Regions from separate parts of the Homo sapiens genome. Here regions 2 and 3 are each reported to be linked to region 1. Evidence: microRNA targets listed by miRTarBase, many of them from high-throughput screens and not tested one by one. Region 1 holds a microRNA gene; each other region holds the end of a gene's coding sequence. Distances are between the middles of the regions.

Region 1 (8,241 bases):
CTGGGGAGAGTTCCAGGCGCGTGTCCCGGAGCGCGCGCCCCTGCCGCCCCCGGCCCCCTCTCAATTCCAGGCGCGTATGCCCGACAGCGGGCCCCTTCCCGAAACCCACAAGTTCGGGGAAGGAGTGTCCTCCCCCAAAACACACCTAGGCGAGGCATTGGCACCCCTGTCCAAGGCGTACCAAGGCGTGGCCGCCCCGTTCCCCAAGGCGCGCCGGCCGGAGAGCGCACTCCTGGGCGGCTCCGAGGCGGGCGAGCGCCTTCTCCAGCAAGGGCTGGCGCAGGTGGAGGCCGGGCGGCGGCAGGCGGAGGCCACGCGGCAGGCCGCGGCGCAGGAAGAGCGGCTGGCCGACCTCGCCTCGGACCTGCTGCTCCAGTATTTGCTGCAGGGCGGGGCCCGGCAGCGCGGCCTCGGGGGTCGGGGGCTGCAGGAGGCGGCGGAGGAGCGAGAGAGTGCAAGGGAGGAGGAGGAGGCGGAGCAGGAGAGACGCGGCGGGGAGGAGAGGGTGGGGGAAGAGGATGAGGAGGCGGCCGAGGCGGAGGCAGAGGCGGAGGAGGCGGAGAGGGCGCGGCAGAACGCGCTCCTGTTCGCGGAGGAGGAGGACGGGGAAGCCGGCGCCGAGGACAAGCGCTCCCAGGAGGAGACGCCGGGCCACCGGCGGAAGGAGGCCGAGGGGACAGAGGAGGGCGGGGAGGAGGAGGACGACGAGGAGATGGATCCGCAGACGATCGACAGCCTCATTGAGCTGTCCACCAAACTCCACCTGCCAGCGGACGACGTGGTCAGCATCATCGAGGAGGTGGAGGAGAAGCGGAAGCGGAAGAAGAACGCCCCTCCCGAGCCCGTGCCGCCCCCCCGTGCCGCCCCCGCCCCCACCCACGTCCGCTCCCCGCAGCCCCCGCCCCCCGCCCCCGCTCCCGCACGAGACGAGCTGCCGGACTGGAACGAGGTGCTCCCGCCCTGGGATCGGGAGGAGGACGAGGTGTACCCGCCAGGGCCGTACCACCCTTTCCCCAACTACATCCGGCCGCGGACACTGCAGCCGCCCTCGGCCTTGCGCCGCCGCCACTACCACCACGCCTTGCCGCCTTCGCGCCACTATCCCGGCCGGGAGGCCCAGGCGCGGCGCGCGCAGGAGGAGGCGGAGGCGGAGGAGCGCCGGCTGCAGGAGCAGGAGGAGCTGGAGAATTACATCGAGCACGTGCTGCTCCGGCGCCCGTGACTGCCCTTCCCGGTCCCGCCCCCGCGCGCCCCCGCCGCGCGCGCGCGCCGGCGCCCCCCTCCGTGTTGCCCGCTCCCCCTCGGTGTTTGCATGCGCCCCGGCCCTGCCCCTTGGCCCTGCCCCTGTCCCCGGGCTGCGTCGGGACCTGCCAGACCCCCCTCCCGGGTCCTGAGCCCGAACTCCCAGAGCTCACCCGCGGGTGACCGGGGGCCAGCCCAGGAGGGCGGGTGGTTTGTGCGAGTTCCCTTGCCACGCGGGGCCCCGGCCCCATCAAGTCCCTCTGGGGACGTCCCCGTCGGAAACCGGAAAAAGCAGTTCCAGTTAATTGTGTGAAGTGTGTCTGTCTCCAGCCCTTCGGGCCTCCCACGAGCCCCTCCAGCCTCTCCAAGTCGCTGTGAATTGACCCCTTCTTTCCTTTCTCTGTTGTAAATACCCCTCACGGAGGAAATAGTTTTGCTAAGAAATAAAAGTGACTATTTTATTAGGACTTTGTTCTCGGTTATTCACCCGTCCCCTTGGGCCTGTGTGGTCCTTCCCAAGGGGCGGTGAGGGAAGCGCCAGCCACAGTCCCCGTCTCCTCCTGCTTCCTGCCCCCAAACTAAGGCAAGGGGTAAGTGGGGAAAGTCCTCAAACTGTTTTTAGAGGAGAAGAATGTGGCTCGCACCCATTAAGAAACCCGAAATTCCACTTCCAGCTTGGGGGCTGGTGGTAAAGTCATCTTTCCCCAGGGCTTGACAGAGAGAGGCCCAGCGGAATGCAATAAAAGAGCCAATTGTCTGCGATCAGTCCAGCGACCTCTGGTTCAAAAGAAAAAGGCGACCCGCAGAAGGTGCCACAACTCTGGGTGCCAGTGGGCTCCTTTTTCCCAAGATCCTGGGGCCGCGCGGGTAATGCCGGAGTTTCCTGTGTTCACCCACCCACCTCCCTCCACTGATCCCTACATTCCTGGTCCTAGGTACTTTGCAAGAAATGCGGGGAGGAGGGAGTGGCAGCCACAGAGACATGCTGGCTAAAGCCACTTCTTAACTTTTTTTTTTTTTTTTTTTTTGAGACAGGGTCTCACTATGTTGCCCAGGCTGGAGTGCAGTGGTGCAATCACAGCTCACTGCAACCTCGACTTCCTGGGCTCAAGTGATCCTCCTACCCCAACCTCCTGAGTAGCTGGGACTACAAGTGTGCACCATTATGCCCAGCTAATGTTTGCATTTTTTGTAGGGATGAGGTTTTGCCAGCTTGCTCAGCTGGTCTGGAACTCCTGGGCTCAAGCGACCTCCCCACCTTGGCCTCCCATCTTAAGCCTTTTCTAATCGCAGGTACTTGTGAACTGATTCAAATAAAACTAAACTGGGCAAACGAAATCACCCACAACAGACCCGCATCCTGAAGAGTTGCTCCTCCTTCCATAAAGGCAGCTCAGGGAGTTGGGGGCAGCCCGTTTGGAGACGCATTGGGCATAAAAATCCGTTTAAGGTAGGGTGGCCAGATAAAATACAGGAAATGAAATCTGAAATTCCAGATACACAACAGATGCAGTTTTAGAGTTAAATGTGTCCCAAACACTGCATGCAACACATTTATCCCTAAAATGATTTGTTGTGTATCTGGAATTCTCATTTAACTGCGTGCTCTCCGTTTCTTCCCAAGGCTGGCAGGATCCCCTTGGCCTCCCGATGATGCCAGCAGCCCTGCCTTCCTTCACAGAGCCCAAGGCCAGCAAAGTCCAGAAATGCTTTTACTTTTATTTCAGAAGAAAGGACATAAAGGCAGACACTTCCCCCTCCCCCTCCCCACCCCTCCCAGCTCCTGCCTCACCCAGAACTGGAGTGAAAGGCCAGGGCCAGGACCAGGGTCCCATAAAGCTTGCCCTTCCCCCAACCCTTCCTTCCCTCAAAGTGGCAAGGTTAGAAAAAAATTAACTATGTTGTTCCTCCCTGGCACTGGATAAAGGCCCCACTGCAGCCAAGGAGAAAGAGGGGGGTCCAGGCTCCCCTCCCAGGCAGAGAAGCTGCCTGGCTGGCTAGGGGGAGGGTGGAGGTAGGTTATGGGACAGAGAGGACAAGAAGTGCCCTGAACACCTTTTCCCTTTAACCTGACATATTTATATATTTACAGTTATTAGGGAGGGAAGGACATCTGGGGTGACATCAGTTCTGCAAAGGCAGGGAATAAAAGCCAAATAGCACCCCCATCTGGGTCACATTTTCCTGCCTCCTAGCTTCTAAAACCTTCAGTGGGAAAAGGGGAAAGTGGAGGTAGGGGGTGGAGGGAGGGAATGTTTGAAGGGCCTGAGCCCACAGCTCACTCCGAAAGGTGAGGCAGCAGAGGAGGGGCAGCCGAGTCCCACCAAGAACAGGGCCCTGGGCAGAGGAGAAGCAGCCGTTCCCGCCACGCTGCCAGGACCCCATCGCCACACCCCGGCCCAGCAGGGGCTATGCCAAACCCATCTCCTCCAGCACACTCCGTGGCGACTCATCCTCCTAAGGCAGAGACAGACAGAGGGTGACGCAGAGACACCAGGAGAGGCCGACAGGGTGGGCAAGACAGCAGTCACGAGGAAGAGTCAGACGGGGGAGGCACAGACACGGGGGAGGGGGAGAGAAGCCAATGTGAGCCCAAGGCCGGACCAGTGAGCCCTTCATGGGGCACCCACCAGCCTCCCAGGGCCAGCCCCAGAGCCAGCCAACAGTGGCAGGGGGGGTCCAGGTTGAGTCCGTCACCACCCAGAGAACCCAAAGCCAGGACCTTGGTAAGCAGGGGCCCCGCCTTGACACCTGGGGGTAAAGGGAGTGAAGCCGGGACAAGGAGGTGGGGGATCTTTCTGGGGCCCTGGGGGGTACAGCTGACTGGGTCCTGTTTTTCAGAGTGGGGAAAAGGCAGAGGGAGGTGAGTGCCAGGTCCCTGAGGGAAGGTGAACCAGGCTGCAGGGAGATGCGTCATTAGGGTCTGAGCGCAACACTGGTGACACGATGGGTGTGTGTGCCAGGGCATGTGTGTGTGTGTGTGTGTGTGCGCGCCAGGGTGTGTGTGTGTGCGTGTGTGGGAAGGTGAAGCTCGACCAGTGAGGTGGCAAGTTCAGTTCTGCCCTCTCTCCCACTGCAAAGATGAGCCCTCCCTCGCCCCCCATCTCTCCCCCTCCTCAGAGCCAGCTCAGGCCGGGCTCGCTCATCACTGCAGATTCCGGTGACTCATCTCCCTGCACCAGGGCTCGGTGATGGCACAGCAGAGAGGGGGCAGGCAGTAATGGGGTGAGGGCGGGGGCGCTGGGGAGCAGGGAGAACCAACATCCAGGTGCCCTCTGCCAGCCCCCAAATCCCCATAGCCTTTTCCTCCTGAGACGCAGAGGCTTTGGAGTATGTGTGTGTTAAAAAAAAAAAAAAGAAAAAAAAAAGAGAGGTGGGGGAAGAAATCAGGGAAGAAAAGAATGACCTACCAGGTGCCCCTTCTCCAATTCTCCAAGCAACCCTTAACTCCAGAGCAAACCCTTAACCCTTTGGTGTTAAGCCTTGCTCAGAGAATTGGACAAAGGAGACTGGGTGGCCACGAGACATCTGGGGGCTTGGGAGAAGGACAGAGCTTGGAATGAGGGGTGCACAGGTGGGCTATCTGCCACCCTACCTCCCACCCCATGGGGTCAGGGCTTGAGAGTAAGCTGGAGAGCTGGGCGTGGTGGGGGTCAGATACCACAGGGAGGGGGGGCTCCTTGGCGACGGTGGGCAGGGCAGGCCGGGTGTCCAGGGGAGGGAGGACCCTGTCCGCCACTGTGCGCTTCCTCCTCCTCCTCACTGTCCCTGGCCCGTACCTCTTGCAGTAGGTCAGCCTGCTCGATGGCTTTCAGCACACTCTTCTTGGAGGTGTCCTGGACATCCCCCCCCATCAAAAACTCATCCAGGATGAAGTAGGCCTTCTCAAAGTTGAAGATGATGTCCAGCTCGCACACCTGGGAGGGCGGGGAGAGGCTAAGTTGAGCATGGAGGGGCAACTGGAGCCACTTCCTTTTCAAGACCGTGCCTCCCACCTTGGGTTCTGCCCCCAACCTCCAAGCCTTAGTCATTGGTCAGCTTTTTCAGTTTTTTTGTTTCGTTATTTTGTTAGAGACAGGGTCTCTTGCTCTGTCGTCCAGGCTGCAGTGCAGTGGCATGATCACAGCTCACTGCAGCCTCAAACTCCTGGGCTCAAGTGATCCTCCTGCCTCAGCTTCCTGAGTAGCTGGGACTACAGGTGCATGCTATCACGCCCACCTCATTTTTAAAATATTTTGTAGAGATAGGGTCTTGCCATGTTGGCCAGGCTGGTCTCGAACTTCTGGCCTCAAGTGACCCACCTGCCTCAGCTTCCCAAAATGCTGGGATCACAGGCGTGAGCCACCGCGCCTTGCCTTGGATCAGTTTTTTTCCCTCTTCCTCTTGCATCTTTCCTCCTGATCATGAAACATTAGTTGCCTTATCTACCTTTGTCTATGGTTCCCCTTGCCTTCCCCCCAAAATCTGTGACGTTCTTCCCACCAAAGGCTGTGGTAGCCCCGCTTCCTGGACACTGTGGGGCAGGGAAAGAGGGAATTCTGGACCATGGGGTGGAAGACTTGAGTTCCAAGCAGGGCTCTGCCACTAACCATCTAGCTAAACAAGTCATGAAACATCTCTAAGTCTCAGTTTTCTGGCCTCAAAAATGGGGATACCAACACCTACTGCTAGGATGGGATAAGGAGCAAACGAGAGGACGCAAAAGCACTTTATAACACAAATTATGGAGTTACTACTACGCCCCATCTAAGATCTGAGCTGTCCCTCAGATAAGTTAATTCAGAATCTCTGGGAGTGGAACCTGGACATTGCCATTCAAAAAAATTCTCCAGAAAACTCCAATGCAAATCCAAGATCAGCAACCAGTGATAAAAATCTGAATATGGGGCTGGGTACAGTGGCTCACGCCTATAATCCCAGACTTTGGGAGGCTGAGGTGGGAGGATCACTTGAGCCCCAGAGTTAGAGACCCAGCCTGGGCAACATAGCAAGACCTCATCTCTTAAAAAAAAAAATACAAAAATTAGCTGGGCATAGTGGTGTGCACCTGCAGTCCCACCTCCTCAGGGGACTGAGGCAGGAGGATGGCTTGAGCCCAGAGGTTAAGGCTGCAGTGAGCTACGATTGTGCCACTGCACTCCAGCCATAGGCGGCATTCCTCCAGGTGATAGGGTGAGACTGTGTCTCTAAAAAAATAAAAATTTGAACTAATCAAAACATCTGAACTTGGTCTCTGTGTGAAAAGTCCGAGCTAAGCTCTAAGTGGAGATTAAGTGCCTGATCCTGCCCCCAGTTTCCCCACTCAGGGACGATTATGGGACATGGTTAATAGGCTTAAAGCTTAAAAAGGGAAATTAATTACTGTTCTTACTGCTCCAACTTCACCTCTCCCCTGAAACTTCCAGGGCAGAGACTGGAGGGGCCTCAAAGTTTGGTGGATTACCAAAGGGGATTGCTGGGAATGGAAACTGGTGGGCAGAGGAGACTTACACTGCCAAAGTATTTGTCTAAGAGCTCCACGTATCGGTGGATCAGCTCCAGTGTGATGAGCTCATTGTCTTGGCCCTCGATGGCGCAGCAGAAGTAGAGGCTGGCATATCTGCGGAGAGGAGCGCATGAGACATCGCTACAAGCTTGCTTCAGGACCCAGGCATTCTGGTCTCAAACCTCTCACCAGCCTGGAGGTGGTCTGTGCCCTGGCTGGCCACAGGTGAGGTGGCCCTAGGGCATGTAAAGAGTAACTCACCTGCCTCTTTGTGCTGTCTTAAAAACATGCAAAGAACGCATGCTTTTTCCTTCCTGCCCTCTGACCTCCTAAGTTTGACTCAGCAAAAACCTGAGCCAAGTAATTTACCTGCTCCGAGGAGAAGGAACCGGAAAGGGTGTGTGTGTGCGTGTGTGTTAGGAAAAGTAGGGCAGGACCTTTGACTGCAAGGGACATGCGCAGTGGGGCAAGACAGGGCCCAAAGGGACACGTGAGTGAGGCAGGTGTTGCACGTGAGCAAAACCAAGTGGTAAACAAGAACTTCTTTAAGAGTTTGGGGAGAAAAAAAAAAAAAAAAAAGGAAGCTGACATTCATTACTGTCCTCCAGATGTCCTCAGCTCCCAGGTCTCCCTGACCTACAGGACGACCATTTCTCAGACATTTTAACCCACTGCCCAACTTGAATCTAGGCAGGTCTGAAAGTAGGTGGGGAGTCACCTCTTATAGACAACTTTGAGGTCCCTCCACTCCAGGAAGCTGCACATCTTGGGCTTTCGAGCCAGGACAACCTGCATGAGCTCGCGCACCATCTTCTTCCGTTCCTTGTCCGAAGTGGCCAGGTACCATTTTTGCAGCCGCAGTTTTCCCTGCCGGCTGAATAATAGCATGAACCGCATCTGTGGGGGATGGGAGGGCAGAACCGAGGGTAACCACACATTCCCCAAACTTATCTCCAGCTAATTCTTCTCTACTTTCTTCCAACATCCAGCCCCTTGCTCTCAAGGCTGGGTGTTTCCACCAGCAGGGGGAAGTCAGAGCTTCTGAGTCTGTCAGCTGGGTTCAAATCCTGGCTCTACTAGTTATGCAAGGCCTTGGCCCAATTACTACTGTAAGTCTCTGGGCCTCAGTTTCCTTATGTGTAAAATGGACATTGTACCTGCCTTGCACAGTTGTTAGGTGAGACTAAATGATTTGATATATGCAAGTCCCTAGCACAGGCAGGCAGTATAACATGTTAGCTATTATTATTATTATTTTTGAGACAGAGTCTCTCTCTGTCGCCCAGGCTGGAGTGCAGTGGCGCAATCACTGTTCAGTGCAATCTCCGCCTCCCAAGTTCCAGCGATTCTCCTGCCTCAGCCTCCTGAGTAGCTGGGATTACAGTCACGTGCCATCACGCCCGGCTAATATTTGTATTTTTAGTAGAGATGTGGTTTCACCATGTTGGCCAGGCCCTGGTCTCGAACTCCCGACCTCAGGTGATCCACCCACCTAGGCCTCCCAAAGTGCTGGC
Region 2 (11,337 bases), 38 Mb from region 1:
TTGGGAGTTTGAGACCAGCCTGGCCAATATGGTGAAACCCCGTCTCTATTAAAAATACAAAAGTTAGCCAGGCCTGATGGCGCATGCCTGTAGTCCCAGCTACTTGGGAGGCTGGGGCAGAAGATTTGCTTGAACCCAGGAGGTGGAGGTTGCGGTGAGCCGAGATCACGCCACTGCACTCCAGCCTGTGCAACAGAGTAAGACTCCGTCTCAAAAAAAAAATTAATATGATCCAAGCTGTATGCATTATGTCCTTGTAGGCAGCCAGATCGCTCTGAAATCTGACATTAGGCAGTCAGATTAGGCAATGTGCATAACACACTGGGCTCCAGCTTCTCGTTTTCCCCAGCAGTCTACCTCCATAGACACTGATATTATTCTGAAGCCCATTTTCAGGATCTTTTGAGCAGAAATAACTGCTTAGCTGCCCTCTTAACTTTGGAAGTTGACTAGGCCTCACTTTTTTTTTTTTTTTTGGCCACTGCATTAAAAATGACCTTTGAACCAGTTTACCATTAACCACAGTGCAGAGATGGGAACTGAGGGGCAATCTTGAGGCAACAGATTGCCATTAATCCTCTGAAAGACCTAAGTGGTGAGCTGTCTCAGTCTTAACCTTGAGAATGAGTATAAAACCACAGTTGTGTAAAATGGGTAACACAGAGTCGTGGCACAAATGTCAGCAATCCCGATCTTCCTGAACTCTGACTAGTTTAAATATCTAAAGAGAATTTCCCTGTGACTAAAGCATGTCCCCCCCTGGGTGTAGACAGCTGCTTGGTATAATGAATCCAGCTGAGGGTAGTGTACTCATGGGCAGATTGGCATGAATGTGGCCACCTGCAAGGAATTAAACAAGCAGGATTCTTGTGGCTCAAAAAGACCCCAGTGTTCGCTCTTACACGAACTATCAAATTTATCTGTGCAGCACTGCTATTCCGAGGGGAGAAAGGAAATATGACTGTCAGTATTTTCCAAATAACTAAAGTTAAAAAGTTTAAAATTTTTCAACCAGGCATGGTAGCTCATGCCTGTAATCCCAGCATTTTGGGAGGCCAAGGCAGGCGGATGGCTTGAGTCCAGGAGTTCGAGACCAACCTGGTCAACATGGTGAAACACTATCTCTACAAAAAATACAGAAAATTTTCTGGACATGGTGCTGTGCACCTGTAGTCCCAGCTACCCAGGAGGCTGAGGTGGGAGGATCACCTACACCTGGGAGGTTGAGGCTGCAGTGAGCTCTGATTGTGCCACCGCACTCCAGTCTGGGTGACAGAGTGAGAGTCTGTCCCCCCCAAAAAAAAAAGTTTAAAATTTTTCCTTTAAGAAACATTTTAAAGTGTAAGTCACTGAACTTGAGGATCAGACTTGGATTTTTGAATTCCAGAACTGCCAGTTTGAGTAGGCTTGTTTGACCATCACTTTCTCTTGCTTGTAAACTGGAGACAACAAATGTTTTTTAATGACTTCATATGAGAATCTAATAAAAAATAATTGATTTAAAGCTTCTAGCTTGGCACCTGGTGCATAGTAAGAGCTCAGTTAATGTTGATTAATTTTATTTAGTCTAAAACAAAGGTCAGTAAAATTTTTCTATAAAGGGCCAAATAGTAAATATGTTAGGCTTTGCAGGTCATATGGTCTCTGTCACCACTACTCAACTGACCATTGTAGTGAAAAACAGCCATAAGGAGTATTTAAACACATGAGTATGACTGTAAATAAAACTTCATGTGCAAAAGCAGGCAGGGAATCAGATTTGGCCTATGGGCTGTAGTTTGCCAAACCCTGGTCAAATTTGTTCCTTTTCACCTGTGTATTTCTGCTATTCATGCCTCTTCCCTCAGAGTAAAAGGTTTCCTTCTCCTGTCCTTTGCTGTCAGGCATGGGTTGTCTTTGAGGCCTCATTTTTCTTGCTAAGGCCATGACCTGTTGGAGACTTTCTCCATATTCTGTTGGCTTTCCAAGTCATTGGGCCTTACCCTTGCCCTGGTATCCCCCTTTCCTCTCCTCCTGTCCAGTTTTTGTAGGTAATTTAGTTGAGGCTTAAATGAAGTAATCAACATTTTTTCTGCAAGCATTTAAACAGCAGTATGTAAAAATAGAAATTATTTTGAGCTGGTGTGGTGGCACACACCTGTAGTCCCACTACTTAGAAGGCTAAGGCAGGAGGGTCTCTTGAGCCCAGGAATTTGAGGCTATAGTGTGCTATGATCGCACCTGTGCATAGCCAGTGTACTCCAGCCTGGAAAACATAGCAAGACTCTCTCTTAAAAAAAGAAAGAGCCAGGCGTGGTGGCTCATGCCTGTAATCCCAGCACTTTGGGAGGTTGAGGCAGGGTGGATCATGAGGTCAGGAGTTTGAGACCACCCTGACCAACATGGTGAAACCCTGTCTCTACTAAAAATACAAAAATTAGCCGGGCATGGTGGTGTGCGCCTGTAATCCCAGCTACTCGGGAGGCTGAGACAGGAGAATTGCTTGAACCTGGGAGGCAGAGGTTGCAGTGAGCTGAGATCGCGCCATTGCACTCCAGCCTGGGCGACAGAGCGAGACTCCGTCTCAAAAAAAAAAAAAAAAAAGGAAAGAGCCTTGTCCCAGTAGCAGACTTTCCTGTCACTTAAAGCTAGGTTAGAATGAGCACACACTCAGCTGGATGTTTTTCACTACAGATGAAAAGTTTGCTACGTTTGTTTACACAAATAATCAGGAATTATGAAATGCTGTGTCCTGGCAAGAAATTTTATTTCACTTACAAAAAAAAAAAAATGAAATTGACCTGTCTTCCAAAGGAGTTGAAAGATGTAGTGGGTCCCTCGGAGGTAGGAATTGTGTCTTCTGGTTCCTTTATAACCCTCTCACAGCATTTGACACAATTGGCTGGGACGTAAATGATAAATACTTGTTGAAATCATATTTAAAAAACACTGAAAACCACAGTCATTTGAGAGAAGAGGATCATTGTTGTTGAGTTTTTATCTCCATGATGTTTTATCAACCTCTATAATGCTATATGGCATGCAAGATATTAAAAGTGATATCTTTTCAGAGATGTCATCCACAAAAGATAAAAGTTAATTGTTGTTTTTGCTTTGTTTTTGTTAGCTGGTTTTTGTAACATATGGACCCATACCAATTTAACGTCTCTTTTTCTCAGATGGAGGCCAAAGTAAAGGGGACACTAAATTACCACGGAAATCTCAGTGACTGCCCAGCAAGCAAAGGAGACGAAATGTTTAGTTGACTGATGGAATCTACCTGATGGGAAAGTACTTATGTGGTCATAGGGCTGCTGTTTCTGTCGATGTTTACATTCTCTCGTCCCAAGCACTGTGGTGAGGAGGAAAAAGAAAAGAAAACATTACTTGAGCAAAGCCAGGTGCAGGAGGAAGAAATGCTTTTGTGCAAAGTTAGTGACCTTTGGTCTCTTCTAAAGAATGACAGAGTTACCGTATTAACAGACTTGAAAGAGACTCAGTTGTCAAACCCACAGAAATACAAATTTGATTTTTCCCGGGGGAGGAAGAAGGAAGTGAAGAGAATTTGGGTAAACTCCATCCATCCTGGGGGTTGGATCTGAACACTTACAGACATAATTGGTAATAAAAGGCATTAAAAACTGGAATTAGGCCAGTTTGTCAGGAATAATGATCATGTCTATTTGAATGGACTGTGTAGCAGATTTGCCACAAAAAGAAATAATAATGATTCTATCTCCGATAGACAGTAGCTGCATAGCACACCCTCGAAAATCCTGAACAAACTTGAATCTCCTCCAGTGTGTAGCAACTTCCCTCAATCAGTGGACTAAAGATCCTTCAGGAAAGTTATTTTAGCACAGTGATATATATTATTAAATCATCTAGATTTTTAAAAATCAGGAAGTTGAGCCTGTTGCTCTTAAGAGATGAAACCTAGATGTCCCCTTTTTGTAAAAGGGTCAATTTCATCTTCCGTTCAGAAGCAGGTACTTAACTCTTTTCTTCAGGTGATTTGTGCATCTAGTATTGACTGGTTAATTCTTATTTCCATTCTTGATGTTAAAATGTGACTGTGTTCACATTTTTCTCCTGAGAAATGGGGATCTTTACAGGGTTATTGCTTTGCTGCTTTTAGCCCTTGCAGCAACATAAACTCTAAGTTTCCCCAGTTCATCTAACTTCACAACTTCTCCTTCTGTTCTTTTAGCTAGTGGTCCTTCAGGTGATTATTAGCTATTGGTATAAACAGGTAGAAGTGTACACTATGTTTCTTCATTGGTCATTCAAATGGCATGAATATAGTTTTTGAATTTTTAAGATGGTATTTTAAAGGGAGGAATCACATTAGGATCACAATCACGACATATTTTTACTCCCTGTATCCAGTGTAGTGAAATTGTTTGGAGCATTTGAGATCCTAAAGCTTCACTATTTACTCAGTGTATTGGTATGTGAGTAAATCTGCAGAAAATAAGACTCCTTAGTTATTATAGCTTCCTTATGCAAATAGCATATTCAACAAAGGATGTTAAGGGAAAAATTTATGGTTCTCCTTGGATACATTTGATTTGATGGGTTTTTTTGCCGCATTATTCTAGTTTTTTAAGCTTCTGAATATTTTCATACTATATCAGAGAATGGTGTAAACTCTAAATGGTATAAGCTTCATCCATTTATAATGACACTAACCTAAAAAAAATAGACTGGTAGTGACAAGATTTATTGCATATGTGTTTATTATACATTACCCTATACCATTAGATTTACTCAATTAAGAGTATTAACCAGGCCCTTTTTTCTTTTATACACAAAAGTCCCAGATACCCTACAGGACTGTGAATAAATAACCACAGATCGGTTCAGATCTGTATGCCTATATTTTGACTTCAAAGTCACATTGGCTTGCTTCATAGCGAAAAAGTTAATAAATAACTGAAAACTTTAGTTCCAAGAACTTGTTACAGTAAAGGGAAAGGATTATTTCAAAGGAATCACTGATATAATTTCTTGACTCTAAGAATTTAGTTTATCAATAAAACAAATATGGATGTAGTATGAACCCCAGTAGATATTTTGGAAGGATACTGGGAGGATGTTGCAGAGAGGTTTGACTTGAATTCAGTATGTTTGATGAAGATTTGCTTGGTTTCAATTAAGGAAGCTTGCCCAATTTTTTTAATTTTTTCAAATGTAGTGGACCTCTTGCTTTTACGAAATATGAATAAAAAGGTCTTTGCTTCATACTAGGGGAAGTGATGGGATTTTCCTTTGGGAAGGTAGCCTTTGTTTTACTTCTCATACCACAAGAGAAGTCGAAGTGCGTATTAATTTCTCTTCCTGAATACTTGTATATATGTTTGTCTGTATGTATATATACATACACACATACATTCATATAAATGACTAGTTTGAGTCAAAAAATCATTTGAATTTCTTAAAACCATCAATTCTGAATCATGCCATATGAAGATCCCTGGTGACTGTCATCATTAGAAAAGAACAAGATAATCAGTTCTTTTCCCTGTAACATTTTATACTAACCAGTAAAAATATCTGAAGGCCCTTGGCTCCAAGAATACAATGTGGAGATTCTTCTGTGTTCTCTTTAGTCTTGATTCCTTGAGGACTACTGTCAGATCCCTACCTTAAACCCCCACCTGCACTGACGACTTACATTCATTTCAGTCAGGACCCCCCTTTTATGTTGTATGAATCAGTCAAACATCGTTGTATTTCTGTATAGATAAAGTATGATCAGAGAGTTTCTACATGTAAATAGTAATCTATTTCTTTCCTAGATCATAACATTGAAAAAGGTGCCCATACTTTATGGTCACCTGTCTTTACCGTTTTTATTACTAAAAACAAACATATAAATTGGTTATTTTTTAGCACAGAGACTTGTGACTCATACTGTATTTTTGCACTTAAAAATCAAATTATGTTATTTTTTAAAATGGTGAGTCATTGGAAAGGATATCTATAGAGCAACGTGTATTTCTGAAGAGCATTAGCAACATCCAAATGCAAAAATAATCAGCACACATGATTATATCCCACTCCTTGGGATTCTTGATTCAGGAAGATTAAGCTGTTTGTTTTCAACTGTTTTATATTTTAAATTGCCTTCACTGATATATAAGCTGTTACTGTACATACAAGTTAATCCTCAGTATTCACAAGCAATAACAGTCAGCAGGGTTGTCCTCGGAGATAGCTGTGCTGAGCCTCAGTTGGAGACTGGGAGCAAAGTGTCAAGCTCATTCAGAGCATCCAGAATAAATGCAAGCAATAATTTCCATTATAATTCAATTATAATTCTTGTATGCTTTTGAGGTCAGAGGGTAAATGAAATCGTGATTTTAAAACAGCCTGAAGAAAAAGGTTTTGGGAAAGGAAATGAGGCTAATCTGTAGTCATAAAATTCTGATACTTTGCGGAAATTAGAAGATGGTGATAGTGCATTCTTTTGTGCCCACCCCCCCTCTGATGGATGTTGTTAGCCCAAATTACATTTTTCATATCATGGACATTGAATAGGGTTTATTGAATCAGGAAGGTAAGGGGAAGAACCGGGCACATATGTGTTGGAATACTGTGGGTTTGACACCTGGTTGAAAACAACTTATTGGACATGATTTTTAACCCAGGATATTTTTTTCCCAAAGCAGATCTAAATTGTTTACTACCCAGGGTTGGAAAGGGCAGGCACCTCTAATCTAGTCTTTGTCCTCTGGTTGCCCTCTCCCACACCCCTTTCCACCTATACTTGGTTCAAGACATTTTCTGAAACGAAAATTCTGCTGTTGTTCAAACTGCCATTGGTTATGAGAACTCTGCGTCCTTTGGGATCATCTCTTAGAACTCCAGTGATCTATCATATTTGCTGCTACATTTGTAAAATGAACTTTGCCTGTATTGGTTGACTTTAATTTACAGTTCTTTATTTCTAGGATGTTTTGTCCTCTAGTTTGACTCATGTATAGAATTAGGATACTTTATTTTAGGAGTGTACCGTAAAAGCACACTGGTCCCTTTGTTGTTTTTATTATTTAGGTTTGGAATTTGTTTGCTTTTTTTTTGTTTGTTTTTTGTTTTGTTTCTGTTTTTGTTTTTTTTTAAAGTTGGAAATAGAAGAATGAGAAAAATCTATAATCAGGCCAAACTTGAGAACTTTCCTGTGCTTCAGCACTGTAATTCTGCTGACCTAATGTTCTCAAAAGAGGCACTTTTACTTTCTATTGTGCATGTATGATTGTTGTTTTTTGCTTTTGAGGGGGCTTTTGTGTTTGTAATAATGAAGCAGAAGAAAAGTGCAGTAGTAGATAAATGATCACAACATGTTATGCAATTTTATTTTATAAAATTTTAAGGGGAAAAGTTTAACTCTTTGTAAATCATTTCTTAGCTCTGGTAAAATGCTTATATTACTCCTCTAAAACATGCTCAATTCAGGCCTTTGTCTTTGTTAAGTGCCTTTTTTCTTTCTTTTTTCCTCTCTTTTGAAACTGTTGTCACATTATCTTAAAGTACAGACTGATAAGTCAGGGGATTCAGGAGGAAGAATCTCACACTTGTCAACATCATGTCATGCTGTGTAACCCTCTTCCTTTGCTTTCTATGTATATGGATATATGTGTAAGATACATACATTACATATATATAAAACTAGGAGCTGCTGTACCATTGCATCCTTTCCAAACACTCCCCTTTCCATGTTTGCAAAACTTCTGCCTTGTTTATTCCATTGCTTTTAGTTGATTAAAGTGGGTGGATTAGAAAAGTATCTTTTCGGCCGGGTGCGGTGGCTCACGCCTGTAATCCCAGCTCTTTGGGAGGCTGAGGCAGGTGGATCACGAGGTCAGGAGATCGAGACCATCCTGGCTAATATGGTGAAACCCCGTCTCTACTAAAAATACAAAAAATTAGCCAGGCGTGGTGGCAGGCGCCTGTAGTCCCAGCTACTTGGGAGGCTGAGGCAGGAGAATGACATAAACCCGGGAGGCGGAAGTTGCAGTGAGCTGAGATCGCGCCACTGCACTCCAGCCTGGGCGACAGAGCAAGACTCCGTCTCAAAAAAAGAAAATAAAAGTATAGAAAAGTATCTTTTCACAAGAGGCCACCTTCGCCCTTTGAATATCTGCTTGTAGAAGTTAACAATAACAACACACACACACACACACACACACACGTCAGTTACTACAAGTAAAATAAACTTAGTGAATCATTGACTATTCTTGGATATAACCCACTTTTCTGTGCTCTTTAAACTTGGCATAAGTAATATAGGAGACAGCATTGGAATAACAAGAGTACCTTGCAAGTCACATTGGTAAGGTGCGCTAGACTAAACATGTGACAAGGCTAGCGTTAGAACCGCAGTTTGGTGTCTAAGTTTAGAAGCAGGTTAGCAACTGTCAACATGAAAAATGTATCATATTTTCTTCTGGAAAATGATTTTTGAAGAAATCATATAGCTGCATATCTATCTGTTAAAAGGTTAATAAACTCAGAAGTAGAAAGACTTCAGATGCTGAGGAAAACATATAATCTATAGCATTCTTGAGAGATTTTCCATTTGCTTTTTATTTGCTAGATAATTACATTTGGCTTAATCTGATTTTATGGTTATTTAGATTTCTCCCTTGAGCAAAATAACATAATTTTCAGTATCTAAGATTCATCGATTTTTTGTTGAAAACAAATAGATGTGACATGTTAAGGGAGACCAAGTTGAACCATCCCTCAGACCCAGTACAAATATACCTAGTAAGTGCCCCCCTTTCAATACATTCTAATTGGGAAGAAGAAGAGACTAGTGGCTTAAAAGGAGAAAGCAGAAGCTCCTGGTAGTGTTACCTGATAGCAGAACTTACCAGGCAGTTGGAATTCACGAGTGTTATTCTTGAATGACTATGTCTAGGGGGAATATTGTTTAACCTTCGTGCCTCAGATTACCCATTAGACAATTGGGTATAATCATATTCACCTACCTCCCAGGGATATCAGAGACTTTACTATTTCAAAAATATTTTGAGTTTTTGTAAAATGTCCTATATAATTAAAAATAGTATTATCATCTTCCTGCAGAGGCTAAAAAATGTTTTCCTTATAATGAGTATAAAAAGCACCCTATGGTTTTTAAATTTAAAAAAATCACTGGAATTTTAATTTAGATACATATTTGTTATTTAAACATTATCTTTGAGGTGGGATAAAATGTTTAGTTTCAGGTTAACAAGGGAGAGAAATAACACTAAGTTTAAGTAGTTTTTTTTAGCCTTTTACGGTGTTACTGTGATTTTTCGTCAAGGTTGTGGAGCTAAAGTTAGATAAAGTTATGATGCTTGGTTATTGGAGTTGATAAATGATCCTGGAAGTTTTAACTGTCTCACTTTTCCATCTTCTCAGTCTAATTTCCTTTTATTGCTTGTTTGAGGACGGATAGCTAAGCTTTTTAACTTTCTAAGAATGAGTATGATGTCTCATTCTTGCAAATCAGAGATTGTGTACTAATTCCATTAACTGTAGGTGTATCCAGCTCTGCACTGAAGGGGTGAGCACTACACACAGTCAGCTGGATACTCTTGTAGCCATTGCACCTTTGTAATTCATGCTTCTTCAACCCATGAAAGAGGTGGAGCCATCAGCTGCTCAGGTTGTAAGAAAATGGGAGACGGAAGGCAGGATTCACTTTCTAACTGGGTCGGGGTGGGGAAGGTCAGGGTAGAAGGAAACATGTTTTCCCCAGCTCCCAGGAGGAGACGAAGATCATTTTATCCCACCTTCCATCCCTGTATATTAAGTAGTACTACTACATAGAATTTTCCCGTTATCGTTTAAAATAATAGCAACAGGAAAAGAAAAATGGATGCTGCAGTTTTAGTTGGGGCTAAATGCTGAGCAACGATTGTTGGAGTGTGTGTGTAAATTTAAATTGTAGCACATATTCAGGGTCAGGAAAGCAAAATGTTGGGGATGAGGAACCAGTGTTACCAGGTTCAAGTGAGTTAGTAGAAAGCACCAGGTCCAAGCAGACAAAGCATCTGGTTAATTTCCAGAATTGGCTAAGGTCCACTGAATCTCTAATGATAGGGTGTGTGTGTGTGTGTGTGTGTGTGTGTGTGTGTCTGTAAGTCACTTTTTGGATTTTTGTTGCTTTTTCCAGATAAGGCCTTAGTAGCCTCTAAATATCAACTATGCAGATAAACATACTCCTTTTTTTTTTCACATGTCCCTGTCTTTTCCATTCTCAGATAACAAATGTTAAGACCCAAAGAAATAAGGCATAAGGGTTTTTGTTGAATGTGTGTTTGTTCTTCTAGGGAAAATTAACAGAAGCATAAAATAGAGATACTTTGTGTGTTCATCTATCGTAAAATGTGAACTCTGTATTCAAAAACTATCTACAGATGCTTTCACTGGTGCAAAGCTGTAGTTAGTATCATGGAATGTCTTTGGGTTGTTAATGATAAAATCATCCCAGTGTTCAATTCTGAGAGTTTTAGATTATATGACACAATGTTCAGGTTTATAGAGCTGAATGGGTGATCAAACTCTAATTAAAAATAGCTTTGAATATTAATGTTGAATTCTTCTTTCTTGGTTTCCTTTAGTCTTCATTCTTTATTCAGAGCTCTTAATCATATTGCTACACTAGAATATGAATTGTATATTAGGAGTCTGGGGAGGAAAGGTTAAATTGTCTTTTACATCCTCTTCTCACTCACTCTGGCAACCTATCCTGTGTCCCCATAGAACTGAGAAGTAAAGCCCTGTGCAGGCCTGCTTTAGAAGACTTTACATCCCAGCAGAGGATTCAGGCAGGGACTCTCAGGATTTTAATCAGACTGCCTTTGAATAATGTGATATTAAATTTTATTTTTCTCATAGACTCTCAAAGTACCACTTGCTTGAAAGTAGCTACTTGTGATCTTTAATTTCCTTATATTGTGATAGTTCTACTTTTCAGTCTTTCCTGTGTATCTCCATTTCATAGTGCGTTAGTACTTAAACTTCGGACACTTTTCCAAACTGTTAAACAAGTCAGGAATGCTTTTCAGAATCGCAGTAGTATTATTAGGGTCTCTGTGTCTAGGACTTACAGTCATCAGTGGTCATCACTGGGACTAGAGGTGTTCTTTTTTTTCCTCTTCTCCTTTGTATTAAAAAATAGATTTTGCTACTGTATAATGCGGCATTTCATGACTTCCTCTTGTTACTTTTCAAGGTTATTCTAAAGAGATGGAGATCTTCATTAGAGGCTATTTCTCATAATAGTCTGCCTTGCTTATTTTCATACTCCCCCTGAAATAAGCCTACTTTTGCAAACAGGCCATATGAATCAAATTTTAT
Region 3 (11,337 bases), not on the chromosome of region 1:
GTTTGAGGGCCACAAAAAAAGGGAAATACTGTACACTAACATGGCCCAGTTCTCATGGGATTTCCTAAAGTTGCCTCCCTGCCTAGCCTTTGGCTTGCCTGCCTCATGCTTAGCAAAGAGCATCTTTCCTCTTAAAAGTGAGAGTCTCCTAGGTTGTAGGGCAGTGGTTCACACTCTTGGCTGCAATTTGAAATCACTGGGAGCTTTCAGAACTACTGGTTCCACCACCAGAGTTTCCAATTTAATTAATGTAGGTGTGGTTTGGGTATTAGTGGCTCTGTTTCTCACACCTAGCTATACATAAGAATCACATAAGGAGTTTTATAAAAAAGAACTGGATGTCCAACTATTAGGTTAAAGGTTGAAAAGAAAGTTTATAATGAGCAGTTCAAGCTTGTCTTAATCCATTTTTTGTTACTTAGAATACCTGAAACTGGGTAATTTATTTTAAAAGAGGAATTTATTTATTTTTGAGACAGGGTTTTGCTCTGTTGCCCAGGCTGGAGTTCAGTGGTGCAAACATGGCTCACTACAGCCTTGACCTCCTGGACTCAAGTGATCCTCCACTTCAGCCTCCCAAGCAGCTGGGACCACAGGCACACATCACTGTGCCTAGCTAATGCTTTCATTTTTGTAGAGATAGGGTCTCGTCATGTTGCCCAGGCTGGTCTCAAAACTCCTGGCTCAAGCAATTCTCCTGTCTCAGCCCCACAAAATGTTAGTATTGCAGGTGTGAGCCACCACACCTGGTCTGAGGGATTTACTTCTTAACAGTTTTGGATGCTAAGAAGTCCAAGGTAGAGGGGCCACATCTGGTGAGGGTCTTCTTGCTGGTGGAGACTCTCTGGAGTCCTGATGCAGTGTATCATATGGTGAGGGGACTGATTATGCTAGTTCAGGTCTCTCTTCCTCTTCTTATGAAGCCACTAGCCCCACTCCCATGAGAGCCCACTAATCCATGAACCTATTTACCCATTAATGCATGAATGAATTAATCAATTCATGAGGGCAGAGCCCTCATGACCTAATAACCTCTTAAAGGCTACATTGGGGATTAAATTTCAACATGATTTTGGAGGGTACAAATATTCAAACCATAGCATTTCATCCTTGGCCTCCCCAAACTCACGTCTTTCTCACGTACAACCCTGTAACTCCAAAAGTCTTAACAACCAGCATCAACTCAAAAGTCCAAAGTCCAGAGTCTCATCTATGAGCCTATAAAATCAAAACAAGTTATTTACTTTCAAGATACATTGGTGGTACAGGAAAAAGACAGATTCCCATTCTAAAAGTGAGAAATAGGCAAAAAGAAAGGAGTAACAGGCCCTAAGGAAGTCTGAAACCCAGGAGGGTAGACATTATTATTTTTTTTTTGAGGCGGAGTCTCACTGTATTGCCCAGGCTGGAATGCAGTGGTGTGATCTCAACTCACTGCAACATCCGCTTCTAGGGTTCAAGTGATTCTGCCGCTGCTGCCTCAGCCTCCGGAGTAGCTGGGACTACAGGCATGCACCAGCAATACCCAGCTAATTTTTGTATTTTTAGTAGAGATAGGGTTTCACCATGTTGGGCAGGCTGGTCTCTAACTCCTGACCTCAAGTGATCCTCCTACCTCGGCCTCCTAAAGTGCTGGGATTACAGGCATGAGACACTGCACCTGGCCAAATCTTAAAGCTGGAGAATAATCCCTTTTGCCTCCATGTGCTTCCTCCTGGACACACTGGGGCGGGGATTGGGCCGCCAAAGCCTCAGGCAAGCCCACCCCTATGGCATTGCTGGGTGCAGCCCACATGGCTACTCCTACAGGATGGAGTCTGGTGCCTGCAGCTTTCCCCAGCAGGTGCTGCATACTGCCTGTGATTCTGTAGCTCTTGGTGATGGTTCTGTTCCCATGGCTCCACTATGCATGGCCCTAGTGAGGACTCTCAGTAGTGGCCTTGCTTCCACAGCTCCACGATGCATTGCCCTGGTTGGGACTTTCTGCAGTAGCTCCAGCTCCACATCTCTGCTCGGTGTTGCTCTACTGGGGGCACTCTCTTTGGGGGCGGCTCCACCCCTGCAACAAGTCTCTGCCTGGGCAGCCATCCTTTGAAATTTTGGTGGAGGCTGGCAAACATCACATTTTTTTTTTTTTTTTTTCCTGCAAGCCTGCAGAATTAGCAGGTGGACATCACCAAAATTTACTATTTTTACTCTGGAGCTTCAAATACATGTTCAACATTGCTTAGAAGCAGCATGAGGAAACAGGCCTCGTCTTTCTTCTTTGAGCCTCTCTTCTCTTGACTCCAAACTCACCACTCTTAGCAAAATAGATCTTGCAGTTAACAGAACCCACTGTTCTTAGGAAGCAGTTTCCCTAAGGATGGTAAGCACATCTCAGGTGCCACCATGTCTTGGTCTTTGTCTTTCATAACAAGATGTGCTTCCTGGCTGATAGCTTTTATGTTTACATTGCTAGAAATATCACCTGCAGTAAAGCCTTCACCAATATGATGTGTTTCAAGATTTAAGAACTTTTAAACGTTTTTCATATTCCTTGTTTACATTTTTCATCTTTTTTTTTTTTTTTGAGACAGTCTTACCCTGTCATCCAGGCTGGAGTGCAGTGGTGTGATCTTGGCTCACTGCAACCCCTGCCTCCTGGGTTCAAGTGATTCTCTTGCCTCAGCCTCTTGAATAGCTGGAATTACGGGGAAGAGCCACTGTGCCCAGCTGATTTTTGTATTTTCAGTAGAGATGGAGTTTCAACATGTTGGCTAGGCTGGTCTCAAACTCCTGGCCCCAAGCTATTGCCCCACCTCATCCTCCCAAAGTGCTGGGATTATAGGTGTGAGCCACTGCACCTGGCCCATTTCATTTTTTATTATAGTTCTAATAGAGTAGTCTTCCATGGTTTTTCTTCTGTGGTTTATACCCAAGTTACAGTACAACAAGATATTTTGAGAGAGTGAGCAAAACCACATTCACATAACTTTTATTATAGTATATTGTTATAATTGTTCTATTTTATTGTTGTTAGCAAGCGAAACCATTCACATAACTTTTATTATAGTATATTGTTATAATTGTTCTACTGTATTATTATTGTTAATCTCTACTGTGCCTAATTTATAAACTTTACCATAGGTATGTACATATAGGAAAAAACATACTACATATAAAGTTTAGTATTACCTGTGGTTTCAGGCATCCACTGGAGGTCTTGGAATGTATTCCCCATGGATAAGGGAGGACTACTATAGTCTTTATCAGTGGTTCTCAAACGTGAGTGAATATCAGAACCACCTGGCTGGCATGTTACAGTGATTACTGGGCCTTACATACAGTTTCTGATTCAGCAGGCAAGGACCAAGATTTTAATTTTTAGGTTTCTAAGGGGTTCTGATGCTGATGGTACAGGGTCTACACATGAGACCTACTCATCTATAAAAAGAAAATTACAGACAACACTCTCATTCATTTTAACTATGTTTATTGTGCACTTAGTAGGCCAGATACTCTTCTGATATTTGAGAATACAGTGGTGAATAACACAAACTCCATGCTTTCAAGATTCCCACACCCAGATACTAAGACATATTAAAATTTACAGCAATTAAAACAGTGTAGTTTGGTACAATAACACATATAGCAATGATACAAATTAGGGGAAAAAACCCTGGCTTCTATAACAAGTGAGTATACATTAAAGACAGTATTGCAGAATGGCTTCAGGATTAATTTGATTAATTTAGAGAGAGCCTATTTCAGGTCTTCCTAGCTCATCCACACACATCACCTTTCAGTGTTCTTTATAGGTACTTAAAACTTAAAAAAAGGCCCAGGCGCGGTGGCTCCTGCCTGTAATCCCAGCACTTTGGGAGGCCGAGGCAGGTGGATCATGAGGTCAGGAGATTGAGACCATCCTGGCTAACAAAGTGAAACCCCGTCTCTATTAAAAATACAAAAAAATTAGCCGGGCGTGGTGGCGGGCGACTGTAGTCCCAGATACTTGGGAGGCTGAGGCAAGAGAATGGTGTGAACCCAGGAGGCGGAGCTTGCAGTGAGCTGAGATCGCGCCACTGCACTCCAGCCTGGGTGACAGAGCGAGACTCTGTCTCAAAAAAACAAAACAAAACAAACTTAAAAAAGATAATGTGGCACCAAATTTGTAAGATACTTTGAAATTCATAATTTCAGATGGATGTGGCTGGTAAGGATCTTAACAAGCCCCCAGTTTGGGCTGACTTTTACTAATGAGGAAAATTGTTAGGATTAAGCAGGGTCTTGAGGAATCACCTCTAAAGGCTCAGACTTTAAAGTGCTTCCCCTCCCTTCCCTACCCCAACATTTGGAGAAATCTCTCACTAGATGGCCTTTCAAATAAATGAGAAACACATGGTTCTAGGACAATTGATTATTTGAGAAAAAAGTATACTCTAATAAATTCCAGATAGAATAAAGGTTAATGTGAATAAACAAAAACAAAGAGAATATGGGTAATTCTTTTTTTAAAATTTATTTCTATTTTTTATTTTTTTTGAGACAGTTCTTACTCTGTTGCCCAGGCTGGAGTGCAGTGGTGCAATCATAGCTCACTGCAGCGTTGAACTCCTGGGCCCAAGCCATCCTCCTGCTTAGCCTCCTGAGCAGCTGGGACTACAGGTGTGTGTCGCTACACCTGGCTATTTTTTATTTTTTGTAGAGATAGGGGTATTGCTTTGTCGCCCAGGCTGGGCTCAGATTCCTGGCTTCAAGCAATTCTCCCACCTTGGCTTCCCAAAGTGTTGGGATTACAAGCATGAGCCATTGTGTCTGGCCTGGGTGATTCTTTATCTGACATAGAGGTTGGGAAACAGAACAACAAAAAAAAATTGATAAATTACATAACTTACAAATTAGTAAGAAAGATATGACCATACTAATGGAAAAAAGTTAATTCAAAAACTTTTGACCTTAAACTAACTTTTTGGATATTAGGCTTCCTGAAGTTCAAGAGTGACATATTAGGCTTATATTAGGCTTATTTGTAATGTTTGAATTATACAGGAAACATTGTCAAGTGTGAGGTGGTGTTTAGCTTCCTTTGGGTTATACTGATAGAGATTTGTTGTTAATATGTGTTCCAGGATTGTATGAGAGTTCTAAAATTCTGATATGTCTTAATATATGTTGTAATGATTATGTTAAATTGTTGTAAGCCACAGAAATAGCCACATTTGTCAACTGTGTCTTTATGGCTGTCTTAAGACTTTTGTCATCCATAATTGATGTTTTGCTCTGATCCTTCTCAAAAAAAAAAAGTGACTTATAATCAGCTACAGTCCAAGGCTTACTTCTTTGGAGTTCATGAAAAGAACTCTTGAATGCAGGTTTCTGGTAACTTTGGAGAGTGTGCCATTGGATTAGACAGAAAACTTCCAAGGCACTAATTGAAAGGCTGATGTGTTCATAAAGATGAATATGAAGTAGAGCAGGAGTTGATTACATGGACTGAAATGAACTAATGGAAGACTGAAATAATTTGTATGGCTTTTGTTGTTTGAAATATTGCTACTTCTTTTTGTTTTTTCAGAGTCTGAATAATCTTTTTATTTTGAGCTATTTATAGCCTTGAAATACACTTTAAGTGTATTGAGTATTCTAATTTCTCCAGAATTTGTAAACTATTTATGAATATTCTTAATTCATGGCATTTGTCTGTATAAAGTTAATAACCACGTTTTCTTTTGTAATAGGGCACAATTGAAACCGGTTACTTTCTCAGGACTTTGACTGAAATGGCCTTGTGAAATGTTCTAGCAAAGCCAATCTAGGAGAGTCTATATGGACAATGATTCTTGTTGCACTTTGTGTGGGTAATCAGGCCCAGTATATGGGACTGCAGTTTATTTTGAAGTTAGGTCGGTTCTGCTGTGATTTGTCTTTGGTGGAAGTGGTAGACTGGAGACAGAAATATTGTATGTCCCTAAATTAATATAGCTCCCAACAACCAATCCCTCATTATACCTTTAACTGCAACCACCAGACACAACGGCTAGGAATAACAGCAGAGGTAGGAATGGGAGTTAGCGGGATTGCAACTTCCCTATCCTATTACCAACGCTTGTCCAAGGATTTTATGGAAAGCCTGGATAACATTGCTCAAAGTATTGTCACCTTACAAATTCGGATAGGCTCCTTGGCAGTGGTCGCTTTGCAAAATCGAAGGGGACTAGATCTCCTAACTGCTGAAACAGGTGGCTTATGTATTTTCCTAGAAGAAGAATGCTGTTTTGATGTCAACCAATCAGGATTAGTAAGGGACACCACCTGAAAACTAGCTGACTGGGCCTCTAAAATATGACAACAGCTGGGGCACCTAAAGGGCACTAAGTTGGGTTTCATGGCTCCCTCCCTTGGCCAGCCCATTATTAATGATTATATTTGCCTTGGTTTTTGGACCATATCTGTTAAATCTTTTAACCAAATCCATTTCCTTTTGCCTAGAGACCACCAAGTTAGATGATCATGTGACAAGATTTCTAGCCAGTTTCAGGAGAAGACACCACCGGCCATCAAGAAGCTACCCTGTCTCCCCTAGACAAAGCAGGGTGAGAGTTACGTGATCTCCAATAGGTAGGGACTGTGTCCCAAGTTAGCATGAAGCAGTTACAGAAGAAAGACCCTCAGTCTCTCAGCCTCCCATAAAGATTTACGAGGATCACGTCTCTCAGGGGGAAAATGAGGCAGGAGAATAGGGTCTGGAGACAGGGAACCTAAGGCTGATTCACATTGACTTCCTAGAACTGAATCAAAAGGAAAACCCCACCTCTCCATACCTAAGTAACAAAAGGATCAGAGGCTACTCCCTTTGCAATCCCCTTGCCTTTTCTGCATTGCAGATGAAAAATGAAAGTGCCTCTGATTGGTCCCCTCCTGCAACCAATCAGACTGGTCATAGGCCAAGTCCTCATTTACACAGGAGTATAACTTTGTAACTTCACTTCAGCCTCTGATTGGTCACTTTCTGCACCAATCAGACAGGTCACGGGCCACTACTTCATTTACACAGGGTGTACGCCAAGTAACCAATGGCAAACCTCTAGAGGATATTCATTGCTTTGTGCGTTTTGTTCAATTATTTGTCCAAAATGCCAAGAACCTGGACACCCTCCACCAGTAACAGTTTGACCAGTTATTTATTGTATTACTTAGGACTGCATTTGGCTGCATATAAAAGAAACCTGACCAAGGCCTAATTAAGCACAGTGTTTATTCTTCTCACTACCAAGAAGTCAGAGGTCAGCAATCCAAGCTGGTGTAGCAGCTCCTCCAGGCATGTCAGCAAGGAGCCAAGCTCTGAGTCTTTTTACTAACATGACCCAAAGCACATGGCTGCCTTCCTTATGCCTAAAAGTGGCTCTGGTACTCAGGTTTTATCTCTGCACTCCAAGTAGGATGAAAAGATAAGAGCAAAGGCTCATGTTTGCCAAGTCTGTCCTTTTGTAACAAAAAACCCAGCAGCTTTATCAAGCAGAATTCCACCTGTATTTCTTAACTTGCCAGAGCTGAGTCTCATGGCCACCCTTAGCAGGAGTTGGGGAGGTATTTTTAACAAGGCACATTATCATCTCCCCCACCCAAAGTGGAGCTATTGCTAATGAAAAAGATACAATGAGATGTTTATGAAATTATCTGTAGCTATTAATGTCAGGTTTTTGAAATTTACTGACCTGGAAGAATACTCGTAATGCAATGTCAAGTGAGAAGCAGGACAAAGAACATTTGCAATACAGTTGTATTTATAAAATTTTGTTTACACACAAAAAATGTATTTTGCTTAAAAATATAATTTACATATATATACAACCACACAAGGGAAATAACAAAATGTTAATACTAGCTAATTTCTATAGAGTTGGCATTTTAAGTCAGAGGGGTATTGATGAATAGATGTAGTTTATTAAATTTTTTTCTCTATTTCCTAAACTTTCTATAAAGAACTTGTAGTATCTTTATAATAGGAAAAAATGTGATTTTAATGAACACTCCATATACTTTCAAAGTAGACTAAATTCAAAATATTTACACTTACTCATTTTCATCTTCGTTGTCAAAAGAAAGGAGGCTACTATTTTTAATTTGTTTTTGTGAGTTCTTTTTGACCGAGTCCTGATTTACTTCATCTTCATTTGGCTTCTTCTTTTTTGAGCTTGCTGTTAAACCTGAATATTTTTCATCTGAGGGATGCTTGACTGGTTTTCGATATATGATTCTTCCATCGGCTGGAGTTGGTTCTTCATCTGAGCAAAAACAGAATTTTTAAGAACTTTCTTCTCCTCATTATTTTGCCTTTACCTTAGAAGCAAATAATAAGAAAATCTCATATTGTATTTAAGGATATCCCTGAATCTGATTCAGTCTGGTCTTCTCCATTGTTTCTAGCTATATTGCCCTCAAGGCATGCAGTTACTTAATAAAAACTCACATGCTAAAGTATTCTATAATATTGTCAGTTCCCAATTACAATCAGGTTGTATTTTTAAGTAGTTTGAAAAGTGACTGTTTGGAACTACAGCATTTTCCCCTAAAGCAATGTAGTAAATGTTCAGAAATAATGAAAAATATACTACATATCATACCAAACTTCAGGCAGTAATGAAATACACCTTTTTTGACTGGTTTATAAGTCTAACCATCTATTTAAAAAAAAAAAATAGGATGCTTTTACTTAAATTCACACTTAATCCTGGTAACAACCCAATAGGTACAATTATTTCCATTTTACTGATGAGGAAATCGAGGCTGAGAGGTGTAATAACTTGCTCAAGGTTACACATCTGGTAAGTGTCAAAGCTAAGGCTTGAACCCGGAACTGCCACCTTGAAACACACCACACTACTAAATAAAATAAACAATTTCATACCCTGGGCTCCTTAAATTGTTAGAAAAACCAGATTACTTTTAGACCTACCTGCTTTGGCAGCCTTTATTTCTGCTTTAATTTTCATGACTTCTTCAACTGACAGGTCTCCCTTTTTTAAAACCACCACTTGAGGCTGTTCATCTTCTTTGTCACTGTGATCCCCATCTTCATCTGGGGGCTGAGGCTGAATTCTCTAGGGAAAAACACAAATACAATGTGTAGATCACTGATCTTGAGACAAACAGAACCACTGCCTCTAAGAGAAACTGTAATTATTTATGAGAAGGGTATCTTTATTGAGTAAATAAGGGCAATGAATTTTAAGGTAACTCCAAAGAGACTTAGCTTGCCACACAAGGGAACAGGTTTAACTGCCATTCAGCCTGGAGTGCCTGTCCGGTGGGATTCATTTCCATCTCAGCAGGACCCAGCTTGTAGTTACTAGTGTGAGGGACCCTCTGCTTTGGGTACTGCTGTCACTCCTAGCCTACTCAGGGCAGCACTGTGCCATGTCAGTTGTTTGCTCCTCATCAGCACTTTTTGCCTGTCTCTTCTCTGAGTTAGACAAGAAATAAACACCATCAAAGTACAGAAAGCAGCAAGTAAAACGTACTCTCTCTCTCACCTCTGCTCATCTTTTCCCCCTCCTAATAGCTTCAGTTTGGTGGATATTCTATCAGCTATTTTCCACGTCTATACAACTATGTAGGTACATAAAACTTTTTGTATACCAACAACACTGTACTTATTCCTGTGACTTGCTTTTTCCCTATTTATGAAATTTCTCAAACATAAAGTACAGAGAATAACATAACAGAAACCATGTACTCCCTGTATATGTGTAACAGATGGTAATATTTTGCCAGTTGATTCAGATTTTTGAAATGTGAGACACCGTAAGAGCCCCACTCCCACAACTTAACTCAAAAAATATCTTTGTACAGTACTTTAAGATATAGAATTATCTGATTTTTAAAAAATCACTGCCTTGCATTTAATTACATATATGGTCACCTCAAGATTTATTTGACCAGCATCTTGTAAATACAAATTTTGCTCGTTTCCAGATTTTTTTCTACTATGAAAAAACCTCATGCACCCATTTTTGCTCACTTTTGGGAACTTGTATGCAAGAACTTTTAATGTTAACAGTTCACTAGAGGTGGAACTGTTGGGTTGAAAGGTATGCATACCAAAATATGTTTTCATATGTTATTCAAACACAATCACTCATTACTCCACTTCTCATAGAGACTTCCTGGTCTCCCAAACAAGGCGACAAAGCCCTGCAAGAATTAGCCTCAGCCCATAACCACAGCTTTATCCTGTACCACTCTCTCATGGCATCTAGACTCTGGCATGGCAAGGTTTGAGTACTTGGAGATTTATAAATATATTAGCTCCTTTGCTTCCCCTGTCTCTGAACAAATTCCTACGGCTTATTAAGCCCCACAGCCCCTGAGCAACTCCTACTCAAGCTGCCTTCCAGATTTAGAGCCTCTAGAAGTGCTTACCTAAATCTCACCTTCTCTTGTTTCTTACACTGTGCATAGCTCATAGGTAGCATGTATTGCACTGTGGTACCAATGTTTTTCTGCTGGTTTCCACTGGGCAAGTGCCTTCTGGAGAGGCACAAAGCCTGGAAAACAGCAGGGACTTCCAGAAATATTTGTTGATCTACTCATGAATGACCAACAGAATGGAAAATGATGAACTACATGAAGCCCTGGCAAGTTGCTTGTGCCATTTTAACTATAACTCAAGTTCTCAAGTCTGCTCTATCACTGCACAAGTACATTCTCTTTAATGGTATCTATGTTAGTTCACTGATTATTCATCAGTTTCTGCCAATTTTTCTCTGAAAGTCTCCAATAAATGACCACAAATAGGTAGTAAGTATTTTTAGCCAAAAATATGGGAAAGTGAAATAAAATCATTCCTTTTGTTTGTTAAATTGAGAATAATTAATTCTGACTCTCTTCTCTTTTTTTCTTTTTAAATGTGACTGCCTGGAAAACAAGAGAAATAGTCTAAGGACAGTGGCAGTAGCCACTGATGACTGTTCAGAGACATTTCTGAATTAACTCTCAAGAAAGTGAATAGGGCCAGGCGCAGTGGCTCATGCCTGTAATCCCAGCACTCTGGGAGGCCTAGGCAGGCAGATCACTTGAGGTCAGCAGTTCAAGACTAGCCTGGCAAACATGGTGAAACCCCCCGTCTCTACTAAAAATACAGAAATTACCTCGGTGTGGTGGTGGGCACCTGTAATCCCACCTACTTGGGTGGCTGAGGCAGGAGAATTGCTTGAACCCAAAAGGTGGAGGTTGCAGTGAGCTGAGATCGAGTCACTGCATTTCAGCCTAAGCAACAGAGAAAGACTCCGCCTCAAAAAAAATAAAAGTGAATAGGATGATTTAGCTTAATTATGGAATGATTTCCCATGAAAC

What was found. Region 1 holds the annotated microRNA hsa-miR-4653-3p (UGGAGUUAAGGGUUGCUUGGAGA, at 4,672-4,694, opposite strand). A microRNA usually pairs through its seed, bases 2 to 8, with sites in the 3' UTR of a target mRNA and lowers its output. Matches are read on the target gene's strand: a 7mer-m8 pairs with bases 2 to 8, a 7mer-A1 pairs with bases 2 to 7 and ends in A, and an 8mer does both.
Region 2: the mRNA of UBN2 is a reported target of hsa-miR-4653-3p. Seed matches in the 3' UTR shown: 7mer-A1 at 3,552-3,558 and 7mer-A1 at 6,845-6,851.
Region 3: miRTarBase lists KIAA1143 as a target of hsa-miR-4653-3p. Seed matches in the 3' UTR shown: 7mer-m8 at 6,047-6,053 and 7mer-A1 at 5,324-5,330.

Annotation. Positions count from the first base shown.
Region 1 is chr7:101,155,977-101,164,217 of GRCh38, reverse strand. It overlaps MIR4653 (microRNA 4653), which reads right to left and starts at 4,745; the gene lies at 4,663-4,745. It overlaps AP1S1 (adaptor related protein complex 1 subunit sigma 1), which reads right to left. Exons shown (of 5, transcript NM_001283.5): 2 at 7,446-7,624; 3 at 6,733-6,841; 4 at 5,022-5,159; 5 at 2,942-3,699. The coding sequence ends at 3,652. It overlaps VGF (VGF nerve growth factor inducible), which reads left to right. Exons shown (of 2, transcript NM_003378.4): 2 at 1-1,709. The coding sequence ends at 1,222. RefSeq lists silencers at 481-620, 781-830, 1,391-1,480 and an enhancer at 6,658-7,857.
Region 2 is chr7:139,294,629-139,305,965 of GRCh38, forward strand. UBN2 (ubinuclein 2) reads left to right here. Exons shown (of 18, transcript NM_173569.4): 18 at 3,159-11,337. The coding sequence ends at 3,208. Among named protein-coding and RNA genes, the nearest start is that of TRR-CCT4-1, 40 kb to the right of the region's middle. RefSeq lists a silencer at 1-114.
Region 3 is chr3:44,745,286-44,756,622 of GRCh38, forward strand. KIAA1143 reads right to left here. Exons shown (of 3, transcript NM_020696.4): 2 at 8,939-9,083; 3 at 3,459-8,267. The coding sequence ends at 8,056. Among named protein-coding and RNA genes, the nearest start is that of KIAA1143, 11 kb to the right of the region's middle.